7 linked regions of the Homo sapiens genome follow. The protein of the gene in region 2 interacts with the protein of the main gene of each other region in a pairwise test. Each region holds a gene or a part of one and is shown on either strand. Other genes may lie near its edges.

Region 1 (4,094 bases), on a different chromosome or scaffold from region 2:
ACTAAAAATACAAAATTAGCCTGGCGTGGTGGCACATGCCTGTAATCCCAGCTACTCGGGAAGCTGAGGCAGGAGAATTGCTTCAACCCGGCAGGCAGAGGCTGCGGTGAGCTGAGATCGTGCACTCCAGCCTGGGCAACAATTGTGAAACTCCATCTCAAAAAAAAAAAAAAAAAACAAAAAAAAACCGTTCTGACTCTCTGGCTCTCTAGTAAGGATAACCCGCTCTCTGCTGGCACAGTGGGAATATTGGTATACCAACTCCTGCTTCTCCTTCAAAATGAATGGCAACAGCAATCAGATAAACCAAGCATTGGCAATAACATGAAACCTTCCAGCCCCTTGCAGAGCTGTGTCTCAAGCTTCTTCAAGAAAGTTAAGAGATGGACTTGCATTTTCCTTGCCTGCCATTAAAAGCAGTCTTTATCTCATAGGCACACATCAAATGTGCTTGAAGCCTGGCTCCAAAAAACTCTGCCCTCAAGAATCCATGGAGTGGCGGGGTACGGTGGCTCACGCCTGTAATCCCAGCACTTTGGGAGGCCGAGGCGGGAGGATCGCTAGAGCCCAGGAGATCGAGACCAGCCTAGGCAACATGGCAAAACCCCATCTCTACTAAAAATACAAAAATTAGACAGACATGGTGGCACATGCCTGTAATCCCAGCTACTTGAGTGGCTGAGGCATGAGAATTTCCTGAACCTGGGAGGTGGAGGTTGCAGTGAGCCAAAATCACGCCACTGCAGTCCAGCCTGGGCGAAAAAGCAAGACTCAACCTAAAAATAAAAAATAAAAAAATCCACAAAATGACCCTTAACAGTGGAAGCTGAGCCTTGTTGGCAGGCAGGCTGGCATAGAAAGAGCCTCCCAGCCCTTAGAAGGTGAAGCTGGGCCCTCAGACATGTAGCCTCATGCCTGGCCCACAGCAGGCGCACAAATGTAAACAAACAGAATGAATACTTTCCAAAGGAACTACAAAACTCACTCAGAACAGTTTTTATTTATTCAGAAAGACATTTAAAAAACAAAACAAACTCTGTCAACCTACGTTCTTGACTTTCACAGAACATGCCTGAATCAGGGTTTCTTATTCTCACTGCTGGTGGCACTTGGGGCTGGATCATTCTTTTTTTTTTTTTTGAGACAGAGTCTCACTCTGTCACCCAGGCTGCAGTACAGTGGTGCAATCTCAGCTCACTGCAACCTCTGCCTCCCAGGTTCAAGCAATTCTCCCGCCTCAGCCTGAGTAGCTAGGATTACAGGCACCTGCCACCATGCCGGGATAATTTTTGTATTTTTAGTAGAGATGGGGTTTCACCATGTTGGCCAGGCAGGTCTCGAACTCCTGACCTCAACTGATCCACCTGCCTCGGCCTCCCAAAGTGCTGGGATTACAGGCGTGAACCACTGCACCCGGCCTGCATCATTCTTTGTTGCGGGGCTGCCTTGGGCACCACTGGCCTCTGCCCATCAGATGCCAATACCCCAGTCCCATAGCTGTGGCAACAGAAAGCATCTCCAGACATTGCCAGCCGTCCCCTGCAGGACACAACCATCCCTGGGGAAGAATCCGGAACCAGCTGAAGCAGAGAGAGTAATTTGGTCGTGAAGATTCTGAAGCCCAACTGCCAAGGTTTTCTGGGTCTCCCATTTGCCAGCCACTCTGCCCTTGAAGAAGTCATTTAATCCCATGCCTCAGTTTCCTCAACAGTTTAGATGGGGACAATAACAGCACTTACTTCTTGGGGTTATAGAGAACCGAGTGAGTTAACACGGGAAGAACTAAGAACTGTACCTTTCAATAGAAGACTTTTTTTTAATAAATATAAAAATTAATTAAAAGATGTTCTTTTTAATTATAACCTTAAATGACTTTTTAATGAAGAGAAAATTAGAACACATGTCCCCTAAGCATTCTCCTATTCTCCTTTAAATAGAAGCCGTCTTTGATTTTTTATTCTTTCAACGAGCTTGTCATTTAAAAAGATAATTAAGAGTAATCTAAACTTAAACCAAAGGATTCAAATTTAAGTGAACATCATATTATGTGAATACCACACTTCCACGTATGGGGTGTTTTCTGTTAATTTTTTTTTAGACAAGGTCTCATTCTGTGGCCCAGGCTAGAGTACAGTGATGCAATCATAGCCCACTGCAGCCTCGAGCTCCTGGGCTCAGGCGATCCTCCCACCTTGGCCTCCCACCATGGCCAGCCTATGGGTGTGTGTGTGTGTGTGTATGTGCGTGCATGCGTGCGTGCGTGCGTGTGTTTTTTGAGCACAGTGTAAGTTAGCAGGGAGATCTAGAGTTGACAGTGAGGACAGCCAGTGTGTGTGTGTGTGTGTGTGTGTGTGTGTGTGTGTGTGTTTTGAGCACAGTGTAAGTTAGCAGGGAGATCTAGACTTCACGGTGAGGACAGCCAGCCCTGTGGACACAGGCACCATTGAGGCCTCTGACTGCCAAAAGGCCTGAGCTTCATAAGAGGCACGGGGAAGGGCAAACAAGGACGGCTCTGACACTGAGACCTTGTCCCTCACTTCCCATCTCCCATGAAGGGGCTGCTCTGAGACTGTGAGGGGAGAGGGGTAGAAGAAAGGCCCACCAGCTCTCTTGGGTTCCCGGTCTACCTCGACCTCACCCCTGGGAGCCCACCCTGGTGGGCTTTGGAGTGCTAGGACATGTGTGCCTTTGAGGCACACAAGTGAACCGTGAGGCAGGTGGGAAAGCAGGAGAGGCCGACAGCACCCACACAAGACCGGGTTCCACCAGACCCCGAGGTCTCAGTGGGAGCTACAGCCTCTATCCCTGGCCATGGCCCTGCTACAGTAGGAGAAACAATATGGAAAAGAAATGACTCAAAGAGCAGCCTCCTAGAAAGAACAACCACAAAGTTTCCCAAACCCCAAGAGAAAAACAAGTGTCACTTCCAGAGTCAGGAATGAAAAGGGGTTGGAGCCAGCGCAAAAATTAAAACTGAAAAGAAAAGAAGGGCCAGGATGCTCACAGATCAGGAGAGATCAAGGGAATGTCGGGTTAGGATGGATCAGAGGCATCCTAAGCTAACACCCAAAGAATTTCAGCCTTTCAACCCTGATCCAGAGAACTGAGGGCCAGCAGGGACGGACACAAGGTCCAGAGAGTGAGCCCTCCAGCTGAGAGCCAGCCAAGCCCTGGCATCTCAGCTGGTGTATACAATAAATAGCTAATGCACGGGGGGCTGAACAACTAGGTGATGGGTTGACAAGTGCAGCAAGTCACCATGGCACAGGTTTACTTATGTAACAAACCTGCACATCCTGCACATGTATCCCGGAATTTAAAGTTAAATTAAATTAAAAAAAAAAAAAAAAAAAAAACAGCGGAGCCAGAGAGGCCAGCTTGAGATTTAAGACACTAGTCGGGAGGGCTGGAGGAAAGGCGTTTGGAAACCATGTATGCACCCGAGTCCCCTGGCCAGGGGCCACTCAGGAAGAAAGCAGATGGGAGAAAGGCCAGGCAGCAGGAAGGCAGGCGCAGGGGGCACGCAGGAGCAAGGGAGCCCCAGGGCCCTAGCGCCAGGCTCCAGGGCAAGCCTGCAGGGAAGCAGAAGCACCTCTGGGGCTGAGTGGCAAAGGAGGAGACGCCCCACAGAGCCAGAGGCAGAGGTGGGCTTAGGAAGCCGGAAGCGGGTCATGTGCATCTTTGTACTCTGGGGCCCAGTGCACCACCCACCCACCCACAGAAGCCTGCGGCTGACCCTCCCAAGGTGATTCATTTACTCATCCCACAGGGGCTCATCTTATGGCTTCTGGGTGCCAAGCACTGGGGACACTCAGATGAACAAGCTGCCCCATGACATCTGCAACCTGGGCAAGGGAGACAGGGCCAACAAGGAGGAGTACACAGCCAAGGCTAAGCACGAAGAAGCAGAGAAACAAGGTGACTAGTACAAGGTCGAGGGGACACCCACAGTTAAGAAGGTCTCTTGGGCAGTGACATGTAAGCTCAGCTCTGAAGGATGAGAAGGAGCCTTTCCCCAACAGATGTACAGGTGAGAGGAACAGCAAGTGCCCGCTCAGGAGCTTGCCTCCGTCCCTGCAAAGGCTACTGGAGCT
Region 2 (4,094 bases):
CGAACTCCTGGGCTCAAGCAATCCTTCCCACTTGGCCTTCCAAAGTGCTGGTGTACAGGTATGAGCCACTGCACACAGCCTGTCGTCTTCTTTTTTGTTGTTGTTGTTGAGATGGAGTTTCACTCTTGTTGCCCAGGCTAGAGTGCAACAGCGCAACCTAGCCTCAACACAACCTCCACCTCCTGGGTTCAAGAGATTCTCCTGCCTCAGCCTCCCAAGTAGCTGGGATTACAGGCATGTGCCACCACACCCGGCTATTTTTGCATTTTTAGTAGAGACGGGGTTTCTCTATGTTGGTCAGGCTGGTCTCAAACTCCTAACCTCAGGTGACCCGCCCACCTCAGCCTCCCAAAGTACTGAGATTACAGGTGTGAGCCACTGTGCCTGGCCACCTGTCTTCTTTCTTGACTGTGTCTCAGCCAAGGTAAATTCTGCACATGAAGAGGGAAGTGATAAGAGGTTGATTGCAGATACAATCAGAATTAGAGATGTGTTGTATTTCTTTTCTTGCCTCAAGTCGTTTGCAAATATGTCTTTTATGTATTACCTTCCTTACTTCAGGTACAGAGTTAGGGATGTATTTCTGTCCTGTACTCATATGGGTTATTAAAAATAGGCTGTTGGTGTCCAGCCCAGTAGCTCACGCCTGTAATCTCAGCACTTTGGTAGGCCTAGGTGGGTGGATCACGAGGTCAGGAGTTAAGACCAGTCTGGCCAACATGGTGAAACCCCATCTCTACTAAAAATACAAAAAATTAGCCAGGTGTGGTGGTGCTTGCCTCTAATCCCAGCTACTCAGGAGGCTGAGGCATGAGAATCGCTTGAACCCAGGTGGCAGAAGTTGCAGTGGGCTGAGACTGCACCACTGCACTCCAGCCTGGGCGATGGAGTAAGACTCCATCTCCAAAAAAAAAGGCTGTTGGGTGGGCATGGTGGCTCACACTTGTAATCTCAGCACTTTGGGAGGCCGAGGTGGGTGGACTGCTTGAGTTCAGGAGTTTGAGACCAGCCTGGGCAATATAGTGAGACCCCGTCTCTACTAAAAATACAAAAAATAGCTGGGTGTGGTGGTATGCACCTGTGGTCCCAGCTATTCAGGAGACTGAGATGGGAGGACTGCTTGACCCGTCTCTACAAAAAATAAAAATTAGCCAGGCAAAGTGGTGCACGCCTATAGTCCCAGCTACTCAGGAGGCTGAGGTGGGAGGATGGCTTGGGCCCGTGAGGTTGAGGCTTCAGTGAGCCGTGACCATGCCACTACATTCAGCCTAGGCAACAGAGTAAGATTATGTCTCAAAGAAAGAAAAAGAATCCCAATCTACATAAGTATTTCTATTAAAACTTTTAAAGATCAAAATTCTGCAACAAAGGTTTCTACTATTACCTAAAAAATATTTTAAGAAAATCAAGTGCTCAGATCTTATGTACCAAGTAACTCACCATCCCATCTCCATCTTCTCAAGTTACCCTATAATTAGCTCTAGAATTAAACTCTGAACAGACTATCTTACTCTTAGTGATGCATACAATCTTAATGCCAAAAAATCAGCCTTTATTAAAGCACATTCAGAATGAGAGGTCAGGCAGAAACAAAGAAAAATCCTGCAACAATGGGGTCACACAAATAACAAATAACTGGTTACTTATTTATAAAAGTCACCTAGGCAAGCTGAACTTCATGGAACACAAAACCAAATTCAGGCTGGGCGCGGTGGCTCACGCTTGTAATCCCAGCACTTTGGGAGGCCGAGGCAGGAGGATCACAAGGTCAGGAGATCAAGACCACGGTGAAACCCCGTCCCTACTAAAAATACAAAAAATTAGCCAGGTGTGGTGGCGGGCACCTGTAGTCCCAGCTACTCGGGACAGGCTGAGGCAGGAGAATGGCGTGAACCCGGGAGGCGGAGCTTGCAGTGAGCTGAGATCGCGCCACTGCACTCCAGCCTGGGTGACACAGCGAGACTTCGTCTCAAACAAACAAACAAAAAAAAAAACAAATTCAAAAAATATATAATGAAATTAACTTTCCCAAAGCTCAACGTACTTTATAAATTAGAAGTGATAGGCCAAACACTAAAGCACAGGATTCTGGGAATGCTTAATAGACACTAACAACCATACAATTGCACACTCTTACAGCAAAATGCTGATCATTACATTCACTAAAGTATAAGTGCGTGCTTTGTGAAAATTGTAGTTCTAGCAATGTGAAAATGAACCAGACTTGAATTCTAAAAGAGCAGATGTGACACTGTCACAAATAATTAAAATTAAAAGGGTAAAGTGTCTTAAGAATGGTGCATGAATAAAGGAGTTCAGATTAAGAAAAGTGTATGTAGGAGAAATCAGAATTCGTGGATTCTTGGCATTTGAACTGGGCCCTGGATATTAGAAATGAGACTGGGAAGGATTAAGGAAGAACATTCTGGGCAATGGATACAGAATGGGCAAAGACAGGAAAGCAGAAGACATACATGGAATACAGCAAACTGCTCAGTATGACTGGAGTATACAGGTTGTATAAAAGAAAGCACAAGGCTATGAAGAGCTGAAAAAGTATATGTAGAGCCAAATCATGACTTTGAATGCTAAGTCAGATATCTTCAGTGGTTAGTCCTAATAAAGAATCATTAAGGGCCGGGCGTGGTGGCTCACGCCTGTAATCCCAGCTCTTACGGAGGCCAAGGTGAGTGGATTACCTGAGGTTAGGAGTTGCACACCAGCCTGAGCAATATGGTGAAACCCCATTTCTATTAAAAATACAAAAATTAGCTGGGTGTGGTGGCGCATGCCTGTAATCCCAGCTACTCGGGAGGCTGAGGCAGGAGAATTGCTCGGACCCGGGAGGCGGAGGCTGCAGTGAGCTGAGGTGGCACCACTGCACTCCAGCCTGGGCAACAGAGTGAAGACTCTGTTTCAAAAAATAATAATAATAATAATAACAATCATTAAGGATTATGAGGCAAGTGATCTGATCCGGGATGAAATTTATCTGGCAACATGGTATAAAATGAATGAGGAGGAGACATCAATTATGTTGCTGTAAGAACTGATGAGGACAATTATGATGGTGACCTTACAAGGTAAGAAGTCACAGTTCTAATTTAGTCTATCATCAAATATTCACTGGGTGTCTACAATATGGAAGGTAACATTCTACTCCACTAAGATATCTTACAAGTTTAATGTATCATTCTCATTCTTGAGGAAACTGATGTGGAGAAACAACTGTTAAAGCAACAAAAGCTAATAAGGCAATATATGATTTCCAGATAAATGTTACAAACACAAAAAAACTGTACATGACAAATCAGCAGAGACAGGAAAAAAATGGTCAGTGAAGGCTTTATTAACAAAGGTGGAGTTAGTTGATCTGCCCCTCAATAAGAAGGCTGAACTTCTTGAGCATAAAGAAGGGGAGGGATAAAACTTCAAAAAGGTAAATTGTTAAAAGCTGAATAATTGTATAATAAGGCCTAGATACGTGAAATAAATTTGGAGATATTTTCCACCCAAATGTTAAACAAAATGCTAATAAAAAAACACAACCCTTTAATTATCTAAATTTAACTTCGTAAGTTATCAGGAAAATGAGGCATTAATATACCATTACAGGCAGGGCACAGTGACTCACATCCGTAATCCCAACACTGGGAGACATGGTGGGAGGATCACTTGAGCCCAGGAGTTCGAAACTAGCCTGGGCAAAGTGAGACTCCATCTCTAAAAAAAACAAGCCCATCCCCCACAAAACATTATAGCATTGCATGCTTAAAAATAAGCAGTACATTCTAGATTTTTTATAAGGAAGGGGGTTATTTTTAGTGCATTCTACAGGATAAACCAATCCTTTTAACAACAAAAGAGGGTTTTTGGTTTTGTTTGTTTTTTGTTTTTGTTTGGTATTTTAATAGAGATGGGGGTCTCACTTTGTTGCCCAGGCTGGTCTCGAATTCCTGGGGTCAAGTGATCCTCCTGCCTCTGCCACCTAAGTGCTGGGATGACAGGTGTGAGCCACTGTGCCCAGCCAAAAAAAAAAAAAAAAAAAGGTATCTTGAAGAAAGCTTTATGCAGACACAATTTGAAATATCCAA
Region 3 (4,094 bases), on a different chromosome or scaffold from region 2:
AGACATTGATACTACTTTTCTCTTAGTTTCTTATCCATTCCTTAAATGAAAGATTCCATTGTAATTAGGACTAAAAATTGAGCTAATGTAGTTATAATAAGCAAATTTTCTGAGTGAATACAATAACTGATTTTCTTTGTAAAAATCTGTATTAATAACAAATAACAGTCAACTGGTATCACGTAGACATAAATGCATACAAGTAGAAATGTGTATAGTTCCTGTAGATATCTCAGTAAGGCTTGAGGCCTTATGTTAAGCACCTCATTTCCTCTGGGTTATATATACTTTTCTAGTAACAACCTCAACTCTTGATTGAGACATAAATATGGCTTGAAGCTAAATATAAATAATATAAAGCATTCTGGGAGAGATAATGAATCAGCAGCTGCTTTTCTAGAAGTCATAATGAAGATCAATAGACTAATGTGTATTAAGACAAAAGCTCAGCCTGTGCAACATGGCGAAACCCAATTTCTACAAAAAATACAAAAATTAGCCAAGTGTGGTGGTGCGTCCCTGTAATCCCAGATACTTGGGAGGCTGAGGTGGGAGGATCACTTGAGCCTGGGTGGCAGAGATTGCAGTGAGCCAAGACTGAGCCACTGCACTCCAGCCTGGGTGACAGACAGAGACCCTGTCTCAAAAAAAAAAAAAAAAGAAAAAGACAAAAGATGTCAGAGTTGCTGACCTCAAGGAATAGCTCATTAGTTTTTCTCTTTGGATCATACAGTTTTCATTTCCCCATCCACCAATCTAATCTTTTAAGTGAGAGTACTTTCACAAACTAGAGCTTATGGTTTAAAAGCAAAATTAAACCTTAAAAAGGATAACACAGGTAGAATAAAAAGGAGTATTACTTTACATTCTAATGTCTGTGCCAGAGGCAACAGATGCAAGACAGTTGATTTGTCCAGGAATATCAAGACTGTTTGGCATTTAGGCCACTGATAGTTGGCTTAATTATTTAGATCTTCATAGTCCTATTTCACCAGAGAGCTTTTCATACTTTACATCCACGCATGTGCGTGCATGCACGTGCATGCACACACACGCACAAAACAGGGACAGATTAACTGGATGCGTGGTTGTGGTTTCAGATTCCAGCCAACCAGCATCTACTTAATGCTGGATTTGGGGGCGGAGGTGTGTGCTGGGGAAGAGAGTTGTTTTATGTGTTACAGCTAAAATTACAGTAGAATTCTTAATCAAATAAATGTTTATGCATATAATTAACATTTTAATTGGTCTCTTATATTCCTTCTTGGTTCAGTTCTTGTTTGTTGCTGTACCCTGATTCCTTGGCATTATGACTCTCACCTGTTAATGGTGAAATTGACACATAGAGCTGTCATTCCCTGAATTGGGGCGGGTAGACAGAGGGAAGTGGTTTTAGTTTTCTAAAACCTTATTCCTTATTCCTCCCCCAATATACTTACACAGTCTCTTTCCCGTCCCCCTTCCATTTACATGCATTCCAGCTGCCTTTCTCTCTCTTTTTTTTTTTTTTTTTTTTTTTTTTTTTTGAGATGGAGTCTTGCTCTGTCACCCAGGCTGGAGCACAGGGGCACAATCTCAGCTCACTACAACCTCTGCCTAGTGGGTTCAAGTGGTTGTCCTGCCTCAGCCTCCCAAGTAGCTGGGAATACAGGCGCCCGCCACCACACCTGGCTAATTTTTTGTATTTTTTAGTAGAGACAGGGTTTCACCATGTTGGCCAGGCTGATCACCAACCCCTGACCTCAGGTGATCCACCCGCCTTGGCCTCCCAGAGTTCTGGGATTACAGGCATGAGCCACCACGCCCAGCCCCAGCTGCCTCTCTTGAGAAGGGACTGGGGTAGAAAAGAGGTTGGAGAATGGCTTCTTCATAGGACTTGGTAGCTCACACAGCACTCATAGCTTCCCTTTTAGTATTTATCACATTTTACAGATGTTAGCAGATTTCTCAAAAGCATGGTTGATTTATAAGGATATTTATGCAAATGTGAAAAATCATTAGTTGTTCAATCTTAACTCATCAATAAGTATTTAAGGTAGTACCTATGCAGGGTTTAGTCAGTGGCACTACACAGAGTGTAAGAAACAGAAAATCTGGTCCCTTTTCATTTGTCATTTAAATTTACAAAATTTGTTTGCCATCTGGAAGGCATATTTTTGGATGTTTACCTAAAAAAGAAAAGCTGCTTATAATTCCTGTGCTCTAGTTAAAAATATTTTATATTTCTAATGGAAAATTCTCCAACATTTGCCTTTCAAATTGAACAGACCACTTTTAAAGAGGAAAATTCCAAATAATTTAATTTTGGTTGCTTAGCTTAGGAAGTGTAAGCTTTCTCTATGGCTGCCAAACCTTGCTGAGGGCTTGTGATTAGGACCAGGGTCAATATCAGGCAGCTTCCCTCCATTAACCAGGATCTGATATAAGCCCAGATTGCTTACTTAAAAGCAGCTTGTAAATCTGAACAAGGACTCTGAGGTTGAATTCTGTTAGTGATTGTTTCAGATGAGTTGACTTTTTGATAAAACTGAAAGAATTAATTTTAAAACTTGGATAGTATTTTTAAACTATTCTTTTTCTAACCATTATTCTAGGATACGAACAGGGCTAGGACTCCTAATGGAAGAAAAATAGTTTATTTTTAGAACTAGATCTCTTTGTCCTACATGAGGTATATGGCAGTACTAAAAGATTAAAGAACAGAAAAAAGTCTTCCATTTCAGTGGCTAAAATGTACAGCTATTTCTCTACCTTACGGAGTCTTGCTATTTCTCTTCTTCTCGTGGTACTTCTTGCTTCTGACTTTATGTTCTACTCTGGCTCATGTTGCCGAATAGTTTAAGAAGTGCTCCAGTAAGAATGTTTGTACTGTTTTGTATGTAGCACAGTGTATCACAGCAGTAAAAAATAGTGTTAGAATAAGGGCCTAACTTGCAAGTGGAAAAGATTTCTAGGGAAACCAGGAGTTGGCAGCAGCATCATCTTTCCAAACTCACCAACATCTTCATGTGTTTTCTCCTAGCTATCTGCTCTATGCAAGCACTTAGACAACCTATGGGAAGAACACCGTGGCAGCGTGGTCCTGTTTGCCTGGATGCAATTTCTTAAGGAAGAGACCCTAGCATACTTGAATATTGTCTCTCCTTTTGAGCTCAAGATTGGTTCTCAGAAAAAAGTGCAGAGAAGGACAGCTCAAGCTTCTCCCAACACAGAGCTAGATTTTGGAGGAGCTGCTGGATCTGATGTAGACCAAGAGGAAATTGTGGATGAGAGAGCAGTGCAGGATGTGGAATCACTGTCAAATCTGATCCAGGAAATCTTGGACTTTGATCAAGCTCAGCAGATAAAATGCTTTAATAGTAAATTGTTCCTGTGCAGTATCTGTTTCTGTGAGAAGCTGGGTAGTGAATGCATGTACTTCTTGGAGTGCAGGCATGTGTACTGCAAAGCCTGTCTGAAGGACTACTTTGAAATCCAGATCAGAGATGGCCAGGTTCAATGCCTCAACTGCCCAGAACCAAAGTGCCCTTCGGTGGCCACTCCTGGTCAGGTAACTGTTTACCCTGCTGATGGTTGCCTCCTAATTCTCTTCCATAAATGGAGATATCATCTCAGGAACTTCCTTGATAGGGCTCATGGGGCAGTCCGAGGCCTTGGAGCCAGCCCACAAGTTGTTTTGCTGTATCCATTAAAAATGCTATGGTCTTAGTCTACTGCTTAAGCAAATGGAATGCTTCCTTTGGCCTTGCAGTGGGCAAGGATGAGTGTTAAAGTAGTTATTAAGTAATTGTGATAATTTACTTTGTATATCTGCTAGTAGGATCCCATAAACCTTGGGGAATCACTAGCTTATTCTTGTGTGAGGTTGGCATCTGAAGGGGACGTCTCTTAGAATGATTAACCAACTTTTTTATAGACTTCAGCAGAAGTACAGCCTACTTAGGTGGTGGTGGTGTTGTTGTTGTTGTTGTTGTTGTTGTTTTGTTTGAGATGGAGTCTTGCTGTGTCACCCAGGATGGAGTGCAGGGGCATGATCTCAGCTCACGGCAACCTCTGCCTCCAAGGTTCAAGTGATTTCCTGCCTCAGCCTCCCA
Region 4 (4,094 bases), on a different chromosome or scaffold from region 2:
AGCTCTGCATCCATCACTACCTGCTGGGAAATTGGGGACTTTCTTGGCATGCCAGGGTTCGTGAGACATTCCCGTCCAAAATACAAAAACTCACTAGAAAAGCTGGAGATGCTTTAAAAGGCCTGCAGGTCAGAGGCCCTGCAAGTCAGAGGCCTTTTAAAGGTCTTTCAATACTTCCTGACAAAAGTGATGAAAGAGCAAAAACAGCCAGCCCTGGGGTCCCGCCACCAAAGCCCTGCCTGTGTTAGGCAGGTGGGAAATTTTGCAGCTCTTGCAGTGAGCTTCCAGGGTGGCAAAGTGGCAGGCGTCTCCTCCTCCAGCACACCCCCACCCTGCTCATCCCCCTCCTTGCCCAGGGACAGGAGGGCGTTCCCATAATTAAGCTCATCTGTAGAACTCCAGCACACAGCAGACGCTCCAAAGCATTCACGACCGCAATTTCATACAGTTCCAGAAAGGACAGCACTGCGGACACTGTCAGGATGAGGTGACAGAGGTCACATGGTTTCTTGCCTCACGATTAAATTAGAAAATTCCACATTTATTCCAAAATTGGCAGAATCCATCTCCAGGCTTCACAAATTGCCAAGAAACGCTGCTTTCTTGGAACTGCCAAAATTCAAAACCCCTGCCACAGCTTTCCTAACCCCACAATTTTTGCCAACACCAGCCACCTCTAGAAGATTAAGGTCAGTTTAAAATGGCCTTGGAGGCCGGGCGCGGTGGCTCACGCCTGTAATCCCAGCACTTTGGGAGGCCGAGGCGGGCGGATCACGAGGTCAGGAGATCGAGACCATCCCGGCTAAAACGGTGAAACCCCGTCTCTACTAAAAATACAAAAAATTAGCCGGGCGTAGTGGCGGGCGCCTGTAGTCCCAGCTACTTGGGAGGCTGAGGCAGGAGAATGGCGTGAACCCGGGAGGCGGAGCTTGCAGTGAGCCGAGATCCCGCCACTGCACTCCAGCCTGGGCGACAGAGCGAGACTCCGTCTCAAAAAAAAAAAAAAAATGGCCTTGGAACAGCTCAAAAGAAAAAATGGACAAAACATATAGACAGTTCACATTTGGCCAATAATATATGAGAGAGATATTCAACCCCATTCATAATTAAAGATACAGGAATCGAAAGAGGCCTTTCAGATGGTCCAAAATCAAAGCATTTCATTAAAACCCCAGGGCCCATGAAAAGTAGGAGAATCAGACATCGTCACTCACTACTAACAGGGTCATAAATGGGGTAAGCAATGTGGCAATGCCCATCTTTTGGGGCACCTATTGGCAAACCCTAGCAACTATACCGCTGGGAACTGATTGTACAAATACAGTAAGATCCGTGTACAAAAACAGTAACTGTAGCATTAATTGTAATAGGGAAAATCAGAAATAACTTAATATCTGTATGACTCTGGCTTAATAAATTATGGGCCATCCACATTGTAAAATGGAATATTATGAGGCTGATAATAAAATGGTAGAGAGGTAGCTCCATAAATATTAACATGAAAATGTATATATAGAATGAAAACAGGTACAAAAATACTTATAATATGGACCCATTGTGGTTTTTTGTTTGTTTGTTTTGTTTTGTTTTGAGACGGAGTTTCGCTGTGTTACTCAGGCTGGAGGGCAGTGGCGCAATCTCGGCTCACTGCAAGCTCCGCCTCCCAGGTTCACGCCAATCTCCTGCCTCAGCCTCCCGAGTAGCTGGGACTACAGGCGCCTGCCACCAGCCTGGCTAATTTTTTTGTATTTTTAGTAGAGACGGGGTTTCACCATGTTAGCCAGGATGGTCTTGATCTCCTGACCTCGTAATCCACCCATCTCGGCCTCCGAAAGTGCTGGGATTACAGGCGTGAGCCACCGCGCCCAGCTGGACCCATTTTTAAAAAATTACATTTGTACATATTTTGATATGCATAAAAAAATTCTGGAATGAGATACATACAAAACAAGATTCACAAGATTCACCCCTGGGGACCAGCCTGGGAAAAGGAGGAAGAGATCTTCACTTTTTATCATAAATACTTCCCATAGTGTTGCTTTCTAGCTTGTGTTTTTTATGTCTGCATGTATTTCATGTCAATTATTAGTAACCTCAGAGAACTGGGAGTGAAGGATGGAAAACTCTGGTCCACTCAGTCTCAGGGTCTCCATCACTGAAACCACTGAGACAGGACAGGGTGCTGGACAGGGGTACTCCTGCTTTGGAGGGAAGGTCAGATGAGTGATCACTCAGCTCCTCCAGCGCTGACACTTTGCAACCCTCAGATACCACAACCCCAGGTGACGCTTGTTCTCACGTTCCTGCCAAGAAATACAAATGGCCTGGATAAAGGTGGGTGTAGACATCTAAATATGGTATGACAACTATGCTGAGCAAAACAGCCCAAGGCTTTGACTCCGATCCTTTGGCTCTTAATTATTTAGCTCACTGATTAAGGACAGGACGTTCTTTTCCTTCAAAGACCCAATGGCACATTCTCTCTACGCACTTTCAAGAGCCCTCTGTCCAAATTCGTGTCTTGGTCAAAAAGAATGCTCTGCCCTTATAACTTTATTTCTGTATTACCCCCCACCCCTACCACACCCCAGCAATTGGGAGGTGGGCATATATCACCTGGGTGTTCCAGGGCACTATTAGGAGACAATATAGCTCAGCAGGTAAGAGCGCAGGCTCTGGAGGTATTCAAATCCTGCCTCCACCTTCCACTAACTCTGTGATCAAAGACAGGTTACTAAGCTCTCTGCACTGCAGTTTCGCATCTATTTTATAAAAAGGGATGACATCAGCACAGCCACCTCATAGGACTGTTGTGAGGCAGTAAATGTAAAGTACTTTTCAAAGCACATGCACCAAATAAAAACCACGTGCTAATTCTGTGACCACAAACTGGTTCCAGACAAAATCCGGTCTTTGAATAACGTCTCTTGCCAGAGGGGACTTTGTATATATCACCTATTTAAATAGTACCTTCCCAAAAAGACAGAGGCAAAGAATATTACTAGTTAAAATGAATACAGAACTATTTGAAGGCTATGCCTACATTCCACATTCTCATTTGCCCAAAATCTGAGCCCAAAGAGGCCACCCCGAGACTGGTGGCATTCTGGCATTGCACAGAGTCCAATGGTGGGACATTGTTTTGCCAGAACAGTTGTCTGGGCGCCTGTCTTGTCTGGTGCCCATTATCCTAAAACCCTTGTTGCTTGTCTCCTGTCTTGTAAACTGAAGACCTACAGCCTAGTGAGATCCATGAACGCGGAGGACGACTTCATCAAAAAGTGAGTGTGTGTGGCTAGGGGACAGAGGGCAAGGGGAGAGGTGCGAGGGCTTCCAGGGAGCGAGGCCGGGGAGGGGAGGGGGGCACAAGTGCGTGCCAGCAGGCAAATGGGGGTGTTGGTTGTGTCTCCCATGCAGGGTCTGTGGTCAACTTTGTGAGCCAATGCAAATCAGCTCACACTCAGGAACAAACAGGCCTCCTTACAGAGCAAAGTGCCTGTTCTAACAGCCTATGGCTATTTCTGGAAAGCCCCAGCATTCAGCATCAGCCGAAAATTTTAAGTTGTTGCAAGAATCACAACATTTGGTCAGTGGGTTGAAAAATCCACTGTAACCATGACCCTGTAGCCATGACCACCGGTGTGAAAATGCTTCTGGCTTCTCTCCTGATGGAGCCCAGTCCATCTGGTTCCTCCCAACCTCTCAGCTGGGAGTGGGAGCGGCACAACGCGCCCTGCATCCCTCAGTGTGCAGAACAGCCTGTGGGCCAGACACTGCTGAGGTTTTAAGACTCCTGGGCCACATACCTCATTGTGAAAAGTGTCAGCCTGGGTCTGGGTCAGCCCAGACCCAGAGCTTTCTACAGGCAGAAACTCACTACTCAACATATCCCTGGCTGCACAGACCCCACCCCAACCCCAGCTGCTAAGGGCTTGTTGGGGTGAATTACAGGTAGGGAGACAGACAGGGGAAAGCTGTGGAAAGAGGAAGAGGAAGGGAACCCACAGGAAGGGAGGTCAGGGCACTTGCTTCGGACCCCAGCAGCCCCAGGGCCCAGTGTGGCCTCCTAGGGGGCACAGATTCCCTTCAGGCGC
Region 5 (4,094 bases), on a different chromosome or scaffold from region 2:
GGTGGACTCAGGGCCCAGATCTGAGTTTAAATCCTGGCTCTGTCAACTGACTTGCTGTGGGACCTTGGGCAACTCACTGCACCTCTCTGAGCCTGTTTCCTCATCTTTAAAACAAGGATGACAAAATCTCTCTCTGAGAATCAGAGAGATTCAATGAGATACAACAGCAGCAGCAAAAGCCTTCTGGGCATTTCACCCTGCACCTTCTGTGCCTGATTTCACGGAAGCCGCACCATAGCCCCGTGAGGGAGTTCCAACGTTCTGTTTTACAAGGAGGGCACTCAGGCTCAAAGAGGTGGAAGCGAGTGAGCTCGTGGGCACACAGCGAGGAGGAGGACCTGGCACTGGAGGCCAGGCCTGGCTCACAGCAAGCTCTCCCTACCAAAGCACATTGCCTCTACCTTTCCAAGGTCACCGTGACCATAGTGGCTGACTGCTTATTACCCACAGGGCCACGGGCTAAGCACTTCACATGCGCTTAATCTTCACATGCACGAAGCCTAGAAGTGCGTGGCTCAGACACACTGGGTGCCCGATACACAGTGGGAGATCAGGACTGTCTGTCCCTTTCCCCCTCCCACTCCCACCTCTAGCACTTGGTTGACATCTCACTGCTGCTGACACAGCCAGTTCCCTGAAGTTCAGGTCAAGGATCACTGGCTGGCTGGTCAATGGCAATGTGTCATTTCACAGTAAAGTGTGAGGGGCATCTGGTGGGCATGACTACATGGCTGTTCCCTTTTCTGATCAGGAATGTTACTTGCCCAGAACTGGTTATCACAAGGAGGTGATGGAGGAAAGCAATGATGATGATCACCATAATAGTGATCATGATCATAACCAACACCTGGGGGCATTTTCTGTGCACCAGGCTCTGTGCTGGGCTCCTTACACACATTATGCATTTATTCTCTGCAGCAACCCTACGGAGTGGGAACTATTATTATCCCCAGTTTGCAGATGTAGAAACCGCAGCTCAGAGAAACTAATTGCATTCCCAGATCTCACAGGGGAGGTGGCAGAGCTGGGATTCCGAGCTGGCCTAACTCCAGAGTGGCCAGGGTGGGCATTCCTTCCCCACCCTGGCCACTGCTCCACTTTGGCCTCCAGAATGCCTGGCTTTTAGCCCTTATTAGGAAAAGCTCTCTCAAGAGTGGCGACCCTGGTAGGACCCTTCCCCTCCATGGGTCTCAGTCTCCTCCACTGATCAATGACAGCTTAGCCCTGATTTCTAAGAACTTTCCAAGTGTTGGATTTGTGGGATCAGGGGACACAACCAGGAAGAAATGTGGCTCTGGAACCTCACAGGTGTGTGTGGCCAAATGACGATGCGGTGGAGGCAGGGGATGCTCCCCTGAGTGCTCAGAGCACTGTTCTCCTGGCCAGGCCAGTGCTGGTCTAGATGAGTGGGTTCAGGGGCCAGCCCCATGGGGACACTGAGTCTCCTCACAGCTAGGCAGGCTCAGGCCTGGAAGGACTTGGAAGAAAGCCCAGACAATCCTGTGCTGGCCACACACATACCACACCCTGCCGCCCACCAAGCCCCAGGAATTTGAGAGTTATGGACAAGAAAAGTCCCTAGGAGCTGGCGGAAAGGCCTGACAGTGAGAGGACAGAAGGTCATGAAGGAGGGAGAGACACTTTAATGCAGACTTTCTGGGTGCAAAGTTGGGGACACAGCCCAGCAAGGGAAAACTCTGGCTCAGCAGCCAAATCCAGAAGCCAGAAACTGTCTATAGCCAAATCTGACAGCCCCCAGCATGGCTCATCCCCCAGGCTGAATGAGACAGAACCACAAGCTTAGCTGAGCAACCAGGAGGCAAAGGCTCCTCTCCAAGCACTGAGCCCAGCCCTCTGTACCTCCAGGGCCCATCCCTGCCCTCCACATAATGTCCAAGACCCTCTTTCCATGATCCTTTGTTCTGTGGCCCCTGTCGGCTCTCCCCACTTCCCTGGACCTCAGCCACACTGAACGTCCCCCAGGGTCCCCTCCGGCCCAAGCTCCTCCATGCCTCTGGGCCTTTGCACATGCGGTTCTCTTGATGTGGAACACCCTTCTTCTTGTCCCCTGTCTCTCCCCTAGAGCTCACTGCCTCCTCTTCTGGGTCCTCTAAGGTCAAGTTTCTCGCCTACTCCAGCTGCCCATTCCCCTGCAATGTAACTGCCCACACCCTGTGCTAAGCCACAAGCTCCCTGAGGGCAGGGATCATGTCAGCTCACTTCTGCAGTCCCAGAGCCAGGTCTAATAGGATGAATCCCCTCCCACAGGAAGGGACAGCTCTGAGGCAGGTGGCTCTAGGATCCCGGCCAGTTCTGCCCATGCTCACATTGTGATTCTGGATGAGCACTGCTCTGTCTGAGCCTCCGTTTCTGCAAGTGTGAAATGGAGGTCATCGCAATCACCCTCCCAGGGAGACTATGAAGGATGAGGTCGGAGAGAGGGCTGTGTACACAATGAAGTGCTGCACAAAAGGAAGTGATTACTGAGCCGCGCAGACTTCAGAGTCCGACAGACTCGCTGCATCCCTGGACAAGTCATGTCACCTCTCGGAATCTGTTTATCTCTTTACAATGAGAAGGCCATCTCTATGTCCACAAAGTGGCTGGGAGGTGTGAACCAGATGCCATGTGAGAAGTAGCTGCCTTGAACAGAAGGAGCTCAGCAAACGGCAGCTCTTCCTATGGATGTGACAGTCTCAGCGGCGATGGTGTTCCTGGGGCATGCTCACTCACTACAGATTCTGCAGGATTTTACGTTAGGCACTACCATTTATTTACAAATGTATCTGTCCAGGGCTGTCTGTACCTCCACACCATACACATTCTCCTGTGGTGCCCGGCACAGAGAGCTCAGTACATACTAGGTGTACTGAGCTCAATCAGGAGGCTGAGCCAGAGGTACCATCCTAAAGGAGCTGTCCCCACCCCGGCTGCCCGTTAGAATCACACAGGCTGAGTATTACACTCGCAGATCCCTATATCCCACCCCAACAGACTCTCTGAGAGCGAGGCTTAGGAATCTCTGTATATTTACAAGCTGCCCAGGTGATTCCGAGCACACCAAGACCGGGATCTGCTGAACTGGAGGGCTCCTGACTCCAGCCCTAATGCTCTGACCCTCTCCCTCCGAGGGACTGCCACACCCACTGACCTCCAGGGATCCCTGCTTCCTACTGGGTGTCCTCCAACCCAGCAGTCTCTGAAGACTGCTACAGTGATGTTTCTGCAGCAGGCCCTCCAGGACCCCACACTGCCGCAGCATAAAATACAGACTCTTCCACCTGGCAGCCTCAAGGCTCTCGCTTTCCTCCTCTCATCCTCCCAGACATGCCTGCCAACAATGCTGAATGGCTCAGGGTTCCCTGAGAGCTCTGGTGTCTCATGCCTTCCCTGATGCCTCAGCTTTCAGGCCTGGCCTTAGAGGTTGCCTCTTCTGGGAAGTCTTCCCTGCCTCTCTCCTTTGCCCCCTTCCCCCTCCCCAGCTCCCATGGCTTCCCCTGTCACACTGTATTGTAACTGTTGGGATCTGCCTCCCCCTCCAGACTCTGGCCTCCTCAAGGGTAGGGACCACACTTTACTTGTTTCCACTCCTAGCAACAGATTCATGGATGCTGGGCACAGACAAGACATAGGAAATGTCTCCAAATAAACAAGTCAGTGAATTAAAAAATGTAAGGTTCGGCCGGGCACGGTGGCTCACGCCTGTAATCCCAGCACTTTGGGAGGCTGAGGCGGGTGGATCACCTGAGGTCAGCAGTTCAAGACCAGCCTGGCCTACGTGGCGAAACCCCATCTCTACTAAAAATACAAAAAAATTAGCTGGGCATGGTGGTAGGCGCCTGTAATCCCAGCTACTTCGGGAGGCTGAGGCAGGAGAATCACCTGAACCCAGGAGGTGGAGGTTGCAGTGAGCCGAGATTGCGCCATTGCACTCCAGCCTGGGCGATAAGAGTGAAACTCTGTCTAAAAAAAAAAAAAAAAAAAAAAAGCAAGGTTCTCATCCAATCTCTGACTTTGAGCTATCTGGGCCTCAACGTTCCCATTTCTAAAATGAAGGGTTGTCTGACAGCACTGGCTTTCGAGGCTAACTGTGA
Region 6 (4,094 bases), on a different chromosome or scaffold from region 2:
TGCTTGTATTTTCTTTTTATGCACATCTTTTCTTTTTATTTTCCCTGGAGGTCATTCTCTTACCTTTTTATCTGCTAAGTTTTCTGAATCCTGAATCCAGATTCCACCCTAAACCCTTCACTAACAATCAAAATCTCCCAAGATCAGAGGCCTCAAGTCCCATCTGCATTTCATCGTCTTGCAGGCATCCCTCCCAGGGGTGGCAGGCCTGGGTTATCTCTCTGCCTGTGCACAGCTGCCATCCGGGGATTCCCTGCCCCCTCTCCTGCACTCCATTTGCCATTTTCTGTATCCTCTTTCTTGGTATACTTCCTTGTTTTGCTGGTTGGCATCCTTGCGTAGCTTCTGGAGAAAGAGTAAATAGCAGCTAAGTTTTTGAAAATTGCATGTCTGGAAGTTTCTGTATTTCCAGGTACAGAATTCTGGATGTCCAACATGAGAGGGAGAGCCAGCTCATCCCTGGCATATTCCTTTGGTGGGAAGAAACAGAAAATAGTGCTGTGTGCTCAGGCATGTCCTTCCCAGAGCTCTGCGTCCAAACCAAGAAGATGGTCAGCTCTGCTATGTTTTGAAAAGGCAAATTTGTTCCAATGATTGATATTATTTGGAACAATTTGAGCATAGCATGAATTTCATGTTTTCTTATGCACAACCTCTTATCCCGAGACTGCAGAAAACTGCAGTGTACCCAGCTGAATGGAGCCACTTAGAAATACACAAACATACACATGTACACACCTCGAGGACAATGAGCCACACTCATTCACATTTGGTGTCACAACTTTTCATGTCATTTCAGAGAACCCTAAACCTCAGGCATTTTTCAATGGAAAGTTCCATCTCTGTCATAATATTTATGTAATTTTTTTTTTTTTTTTAAAGACAGAGTCTCACTCTGTTGCCCAGGCTGGAGGGCAGTGGTGACATCTCAGCTCACTCCGACCTCTGCCACCCAGGTTCAAGTGATTATCCTGCCTCAGCCTCCCGAGTAGCTCGGATTACAGGCATGCACCACCACGCCTGGCTAATTTGTTGTATTTTTAGTGGAGGGAGGTTTTGCCATGTTGGCCAGGCTGGTTTTGAACTCCTGACCTCAAGTGATCCGCCCACCTCAGCCTCCCAAAGTGCTGGGATTACAGACGTGAGCCATTGCACCCAGCCAGTATTTTTTGAGCATGTAATACATGTCAGTGTTTTACCATTTTGATAGGAACCCTAATCCGAAATTCTGAAATCCGAAACTTTCTGAGTGTCGACATCATGCTCAAAGGAAATGGTCATTGGAGCATTGTGGATTTTGGATTTTTGGAGATTTGGAATGTCCAACCAGTAAGTACAATAGAAATATTCCAAAATGCAAAAAAAAAAAAAAAAAAAAAAAAAATCTGAAATACTTGTTGTCCCAGGCATTTCTGATAAGGGATGCTCAATCTATATAACATTCCTATGATTTTTTAATGGGTCACTGAGGAAGTTTTTGAATGTTATGTCCCTAACCCCATTTTTCTCATAAGCCCTGTGGTTTTGGATTGCCTGATTTTGCATAGCGTGGTAATTTTTAGGAATACATATGTCACATTATGGCAGAATTGTCTGTAAATTTATTCATCCCAAAATGAAATATTTTAAAATTACAAATAAGGAACATGAATAATTATCCTTCTCTCTTCTCCTGCTATCAGATACTCAATGAAATTGTTTTCTTAAAAGAGCCAATTAAGGCTGGGCGCGGTGGCTCACGCCTGTAATCCCAGCACTTTGAGAGGCCAAGGTGGGCTGATCACCTGAGGTCTGGAGTTCTAGACCAGCCTAACATGGAGAAACCCCATCTCTACTAAAAAATACAAAATTAGCCAGGTGTGGTGGTGCATGCCTGTAATCCCAGCTACTCGGGAGGCTGAGGCAGGAGAATCACTTGAACCCGGGAGGCGGAGCTTGCAGTGAGCTGGGATCGCACCATTGCACTCCAGCCTGGGCAACAAAAGTGAAACTCTGTCTCAAAAAAAAAAAAAAAAAAAAAAAAGAGCCAATTATACCTAATGAAAATTTAAAAACAGGCTGGGCATGGTGGCTCATGCCCACAGTCCCAGCTACTTGGGAGACTGAGGCAAGGGGATTGTTTGAGCCCAGGAGTTCTAGTCCAGCCTGGGCAACATAGCAAGACCCCGTCTCTAAAAAAAATTTTAAAGAAAAGGAAAATAAAAATAAAGTTTTTCAAGTTGACATGTTGTGAAAATTAGTTTTGATAACATTCACACATCTTCTTGCACGCCTTCTACTATGGATGAAAATATGCCAACCTCACAGGATGAGGGGGATAGAAAGAGTTCTATGTGCTCCCTCCTATTTGAAGATCTAAGGAGCTAAATCTAACTGCTTTGTGAACACTACATCAACTATGACATAAACTTAATTTGGAAATTGCTATGGTTTAAATGTGTTCCCTAAAGTTCATGTGTTGAAAGCTTAATCCCCAGTATAGGAGTATTGACAGGTGAGACCTTTAAGAGGTGATTAGGTCATAAGGGCTCTGTCCTCACAAACGGATTAACGTCATCATTGCTAGAGTGTGCTCATTATCTTGAGAATGGGTTTATTATATTAGCAAATTTGGCCCTCTATTGCTCTCTCTCAAATATGCTCTCTTGCCCTTCCACCCTTCTGCCATGGGATGATGCAGCAAGAAAGCCCTTGCCAGATGCCAGCCCCTCAGTATTGGACTTCCCAGCCTCCAGACCTGTGAGAAACAAATTTCTATTGTTTATAAATTAGCCAGTCTCTGGTATTCTGTTATAGCAGCACAAAATGAACTACAGCAGAAATCAAGTACAGTATTATATAGCTGAGAGGTTGACAAAACACAGCACATAGGCTGTTTTTCTATGGCCTGTGAGTTAAGAATGGCGTGGTAGGCAGAATAATGGCCCCCTAAAGATGTCTACATCCTAATCCTTTGAATATGTGAGTTTATATGGCAAAGGGGAAGTAAATTTGCAGATAGCATTCAGGTTGCTCATCAGCTGACCTTAACATGGGGAAATTATCCTGGATTATTTAAATTGGCCCATTGTAATCATGGGGCCCTTAAAAATGCAAGAGGGAGACAGCAGAAGCAGGGTCAGAGCAACATTTTGTTGCTGACATTGAAGGTGAAGAGGCCAATAGTGAAGGAATGTGGGCTGCCTCTGGAAACCGGAAAAGGCACGGGAACAGATTCTCCCCTAGAGCCTCAGAAGAGAATACAGCCCTGCTAACCTGTGACAGACATTACCGTAACTTACAGAACTGTAAGATACCGCAGCAACAGAGACTACATGTGCTAGCACTGCCTAAAATATTTACGATTTGGCCCTTTGCAGAAAAACTTTGCCAACTCCTGGTCTTATGACGTTTATCCCACAAGATTAGATTCTTTGGCCTGTTTTTACTCAGGAACCTCAGTTCTCATATGACTAGCAGTCCAGGGGAGGACAGAGAATATCATCACCATGGCAACTTTTCCCCTAAAGCTAGTCCTGCTTCTACTCAAAAAGATGATCATGACTACCTTTATTCTAGGTCTTTAAAAAATTGTGGCTAGAAGGCAGCATCCATTTGCCATTCTGCCAGAGGATCTTTATTGACCCCCAAATAAAAACGCTGAAGAGCGTCACTGACTCAACAATAAACGGGCATGGTAACTAAAAGATAGCCACAGACTCTTAACACATTTCCCATCAAGGAGCAGGGTCTAGTCTCCCGCCCTTGAATCTGAGAGGGCTCTGTACTTGCCCAACAGCATATGACAGAAATTATGATACACCAACTTGCAAGCCCAGTCCTTAATGGACTGGTGGCTTCAATGTCCTGTCTTTTGGAACATGTGCTCTTAGAACCCAGCTTCCATGCTGTAAGGAAGCTCAAGCAGCCCCATGGAGAGGCCTACAAGAAGAGGAGCTGAGGTTCCTAACCAAGCTCCCAGGCAAAAGCTAGTAACAACTTCAGTCATGTGAGCCATCTTCAAGAACCCTCCAGCCCCAGTTAGCCGCCTCAGCTGTGACCAGCCTCAGCTGTGACCATACGCGGCAAAAACAAGCTTTCTTCACTGAGCCCTT
Region 7 (4,094 bases), on a different chromosome or scaffold from region 2:
TAGCTAGAGCCACTCTAGCAAATCCCAATCCTGACATCAATTCTGAGGATACAGAAAAAAACCAACTCAGTTTCTCCTACTATTCTCTCACAACACAGAATGCTTCTGTGACCACATGTGTGAGGGCTTTCCTCACACACCAAGCAAGCAATAATTTCTGCAGCAGACACTGGCTAAATGTCCTCTAATTCTACCTGGAGACATCAGATGCCACAGGTTAAGGGCTTAGTCCCACAAGACTGCCCTCCTCCCACTTCAGATGCCAACTGCAAGCCCCAGGTTGTTTTAACTCTGCTTCTGACCTGGCACCTCTAAACAGAGGTTCCCACAAGCCCCTTCTTGGGTTCAATTAATCTCCTAGAGCAGGTCACAGAACTCAAGAAACACTTTATTTACATTTACCAGTTTTAATAAAGGATATTACAAAGGATACAGATGAAGAGATGTACAGTGCAAAACATAGGAAGGGACACAGCTTCAATGCCCTCTCCAGACATGCCACCTTCCAGTAACCTCAGCTACCTAGCTCACTGACCTCTGTCCTTGTGGGTTTTCATGAGGCTTCATTATACAGGCATGACTGATTAAACCACTAGCCATTGGTGAACAATTAAACCTACAGCCCCTCTCCCCACCCCCTCTAATCACACCTTGGTCTCTCCACTGACTAGCCTCCAGCCCGAAGCTACCTAAAGGTGGCCAGCCACCAGTCAAAACTCATTAGCATACAAAAAGATACTTAATACTTTCGGGATTCCAAGGATTTTTTAGGAGTTCTATGCCAGGAGAGGGAAGGAGAACCAAATATATACTTCCTAATATCACAAGGAGCATTAAGCAATGCTTCTGGGTACTGCTGAATTGGAGTGGCAGCTAACATTACTGAAGTGGGAAAGGCTAGGTACATTTCCAAACTAATTCCCAGGAGTCATTAAATGACACAGGGGTCCCAAGCTGCCTTCCCATTTTAACTATGAACTCCTAGTAGCTGAGAGAAGCTTCTTCCACTTACATTAAATCTGTTAAAATGCCACAGACATCCAAGAACATCAATGTAAGTAACAGAATAGTGTACTGTATGAATCTTGAGGTTTTTATTGCTGTAGTGCAATTAGAAATGGAGAAGGCGGCCAGCTGTGGTGTCTCATGCCTGTAATCCCAGCACTTTGGGAGGCTGAGGCGGGTGGATCACTTGGGGTCAGGAGTTTGAGACCAGTCTGGCCAACAAATCCCATCTTTACTAAAAAATACAAAAAAATTAGCCAGGTGTGGTGGCGGGCACCTGTAATCTCAGCTACTCAGGAGGCTGAGGCAGAAGAGCTGCTTGAACCCAGGAGGCGGAGGTTGCAGTGAGCCAAGATCGCACTACTGCACCCCAGCCCGGGCGACAGAGACTCCATCTCAAAAAAGAAAAAAAAAAAAAAAAGACAAAGTGATGATTAAAATACTAGCCAGGTGCAGTGGCTCATGCCTATAATCCCAACAGCCTCCTTTGGGAGGCTGAGACAGGATGATAGCTTGAGCCTAGGATGGGCAACATATGGAGATCCCATCTCTACAAAAAAACATCAAAAAATTAGTTGGGAATAGTAGGAGGCTGAGGTTGAACCCAGGATGTCAAGGTGCCGGGAGTCGTGATTGTGCCACTGCAGTCCAGCCTCGACAACAGAGAGCCTTAAAAAAGCACTATTATTTCTGACACAGTAAGAACCACTCAGGGACCAAACACCAGCTATACCTGGACTTAGACAGGCCTATGGCTCAAGGTTATCATCAACATTAACTCGGCAGCTTTTGAGGTTAAACAAACTCCACCAGCCTGGCCTGGAAATAAAACGTCTAACACTGTATCCATCAAAAAAGCGCATTTCAAAATCTAAAACTAATCTATCTGTAAACTGGGGACTGTGTGAAATCAGTTCAAATTTTCAACATAATTCAGTATACCCAAAGACTCATTCCCACAACCAAAACCCCCATTCTAAGTCCACAAAAGTACTCACAGAAATGGAAGCAGTGGGATCCAACTGATATTTAGCTGCAATGCCAAAACGAGTGCAGTTGGTACCTGATGTCCAAGCAAGGTTTACTGAAGTGTCAAGATCTTCACAAACTTTCTGATAAATTGATCCTCCAAATTCTGTCCCATCATTGCTATAAGATATTTTAAATTAGTAGATCTAGAATAGACAATGTAATAATGTCTAAGGCACAGGCTGATTTGTAGCATTACATTTAAATAAAAAACCACAGCTCAAGTGGGTCTTTAGTGTTCCACTGAAAACTTGCAAGTTTTAACAGGTTTTTTTCCCCAACCCATACCCATACAGGGATTGGTAAAATGAACCACAGAATATCCATTCAGTGGAATTATCACACTGTATTAAACATGCAAGAGGTTCTCAAACAGCCTTTTGGTTACGTATTTTATATATAAGTATATATACACACACATATAAAAAGGTGAACCACAACATTAACAAAGATTATATACCTAGCTGGCATGATTGTAAGAAACGTAGGTTTTCTTCTTTGTGCTTCTGTTATTTACCAATGAATTTTTACAATGGAAAGAAAAACATTTTAAGTACTTTCTATGTATCTATCTAGTTTGGGCTAGGTAAAAACACCAGGCTGGATGCAGTGGCTCACGCCTATAATCCCAACACTTTGGAAGGCTGAGGCGGGAGGATCGCTTGAGGCCAGGAGTTTGAGACAAGCCTGGGCAACATAGCAAGACCCCATCTCTACAAAAATAATTAAAAACAAACAAACAAAAAAACAACAATAGCCGGGCACAGTGGCTCACGCCTGTAATCCCAGCACTTTGGCAGATCACGAGGTCAGGAGTTCCAGACCAGCCTTGCCAGCATGGTGAAACCCCGTCTCTACCAAAAATACAAAAATTAGCCAGGCATGGTGGCACACGCCTGTAGTCCCAGCTACTTGGGAGGTTGAGGCAGGAGAATTGTTTGAACCCGGGAGGCGGATGTTGGAGTGAGCCGAGATCGCAAAAGAGCAAGACTCTGTCTGAACCAAAACAAAAAAAGAAAGAAAAAAGAAAAAGAAAAAAAAACCCAACCACAAAACACCATACATTTTAGGCAATCCTATCAAGTCAGCATCTCACACATCAAAATAATTAAGTAAAATGAATGTACTGGTAGCAGTCTGCCAATATATAATGCCTCTTGTAAAAATACAAAGCACATTAAACCCCATATAAAATGAACATTTACTCTCTCAGCACCAAAGGTCAGACTAACAGTCTTCTACTATAAACTTTCAAGGGGCACCCTAGAAATGACCAAGAATGATTTTGTTTTTAAATGTTATGAGAAATCCTTTAGGGTGCACCCAGATCAATAAGATGACAGACATCAAAATCATCCTCTGAGGGCCCACATCACAGTATCCTATGAAAGAAATACTTACACATTAGTGTGTAGCTGGAAGTCCCCAGTCCTGTAGCCCACTGCAAAGTTATTCCTTGTCAGCTTTGATTTGGCACTGTCAAAGGTCATCTGGTAGCCAGCAAGCCAGCCCTCATAACCAAAGACAGCTGAACCATGGATTGCAGGTCCAGCAAAATCAAAGTCAACATCACAACCAAGGTTTATACACTCCCTCTTGTAAGAAGACTTGATTTTACCACTTTTCTTTCTGGAAAAAGAACAAACTGATGTCATTGGGAAAAATTTACACACACTTCTGCACAAGAGAGCACAAAACAGACTTAAATAAACTGCAGTATGACCAGGGAGTAAAAATCAGCAATACAATAACAGGGAGTAAAAAAGTCAGCTCAATGAACTACAAGACAAGGACACATGAAGCAACTGGACAGCCATCTAGGAAAACTGCTTTGCAGAACAAACAATCAGTCACAAAAGCCTGTTAGAAACACATTAGTTGCCCAAGTTAGTGCAACAACAAAGAGGCAAATATTTGAAGGCAAGCCAATGATAGCAACCATAGTATTCTAAAAGCAGATATGGGCCAGGCATGGTGGCTCCCGCCTGTAATCTCAGCACTTTGGGAGGCTGAGGCGGGCGGATCACCTGAGGTCAGGAGTTTAAGATCAGCCTGGCCAG

The links.
Region 1: the proteins of RNF11 (region 2) and WWOX interact in binary tests that used the Homo sapiens proteins (3 or more experiments, as listed by UniProt).
Region 3: the proteins of RNF11 (region 2) and RNF14 interact in binary tests that used the Homo sapiens proteins (3 or more experiments, as listed by UniProt).
Region 4: the proteins of RNF11 (region 2) and LPIN1 interact in binary tests that used the Homo sapiens proteins (3 or more experiments, as listed by UniProt).
Region 5: the proteins of RNF11 (region 2) and LHX6 interact in binary tests that used the Homo sapiens proteins (3 or more experiments, as listed by UniProt).
Region 6: the proteins of RNF11 (region 2) and PRPS2 interact in binary tests that used the Homo sapiens proteins (3 or more experiments, as listed by UniProt).
Region 7: the proteins of RNF11 (region 2) and VDAC2 interact in binary tests that used the Homo sapiens proteins (3 or more experiments, as listed by UniProt).

Annotation. Positions count from the first base shown.
Region 1 is NC_000016.10:78,102,505-78,106,598, reverse strand, and holds part of WWOX (WW domain-containing oxidoreductase), read right to left. Parts: intron 1-4,094. UniProt on the Homo sapiens protein: Putative oxidoreductase. Acts as a tumor suppressor and plays a role in apoptosis. Required for normal bone development. May function synergistically with p53/TP53 to control genotoxic stress-induced cell death.
Region 2 is NC_000001.11:51,242,280-51,246,373, reverse strand, and holds part of RNF11 (RING finger protein 11), read right to left. Parts: intron 1-4,094. UniProt on the Homo sapiens protein: Essential component of a ubiquitin-editing protein complex, comprising also TNFAIP3, ITCH and TAX1BP1, that ensures the transient nature of inflammatory signaling pathways. Promotes the association of TNFAIP3 to RIPK1 after TNF stimulation.
Region 3 is NC_000005.10:141,975,281-141,979,374, forward strand, and holds part of RNF14 (E3 ubiquitin-protein ligase RNF14), read left to right. Parts: intron 1-3,022; coding exon 3,023-3,550; intron 3,551-4,094. UniProt on the Homo sapiens protein: E3 ubiquitin-protein ligase that plays a key role in the RNF14-RNF25 translation quality control pathway, a pathway that takes place when a ribosome has stalled during translation, and which promotes ubiquitination and degradation of translation factors on stalled ribosomes.
Region 4 is NC_000002.12:11,749,348-11,753,441, reverse strand, and holds part of LPIN1 (phosphatidate phosphatase LPIN1), read right to left. Parts: intron 1-4,094. UniProt on the Homo sapiens protein: Acts as a magnesium-dependent phosphatidate phosphatase enzyme which catalyzes the conversion of phosphatidic acid to diacylglycerol during triglyceride, phosphatidylcholine and phosphatidylethanolamine biosynthesis and therefore controls the metabolism of fatty acids at different levels.
Region 5 is NC_000009.12:122,204,870-122,208,963, forward strand, and holds part of LHX6 (LIM/homeobox protein Lhx6), read right to left. Parts: intron 1-4,094. UniProt on the Homo sapiens protein: Probable transcription factor required for the expression of a subset of genes involved in interneurons migration and development.
Region 6 is NC_000023.11:12,794,143-12,798,236, reverse strand, and holds part of PRPS2 (ribose-phosphate pyrophosphokinase 2), read right to left. Parts: intron 1-4,094. UniProt on the Homo sapiens protein: Catalyzes the synthesis of phosphoribosylpyrophosphate (PRPP) that is essential for nucleotide synthesis.
Region 7 is NC_000010.11:75,220,312-75,224,405, reverse strand, and holds part of VDAC2 (non-selective voltage-gated ion channel VDAC2), read right to left. Parts: intron 3,664-4,094; coding exon 3,436-3,663; intron 2,155-3,435; coding exon 2,004-2,154; intron 1-2,003. UniProt on the Homo sapiens protein: Non-selective voltage-gated ion channel that mediates the transport of anions and cations through the mitochondrion outer membrane and plasma membrane.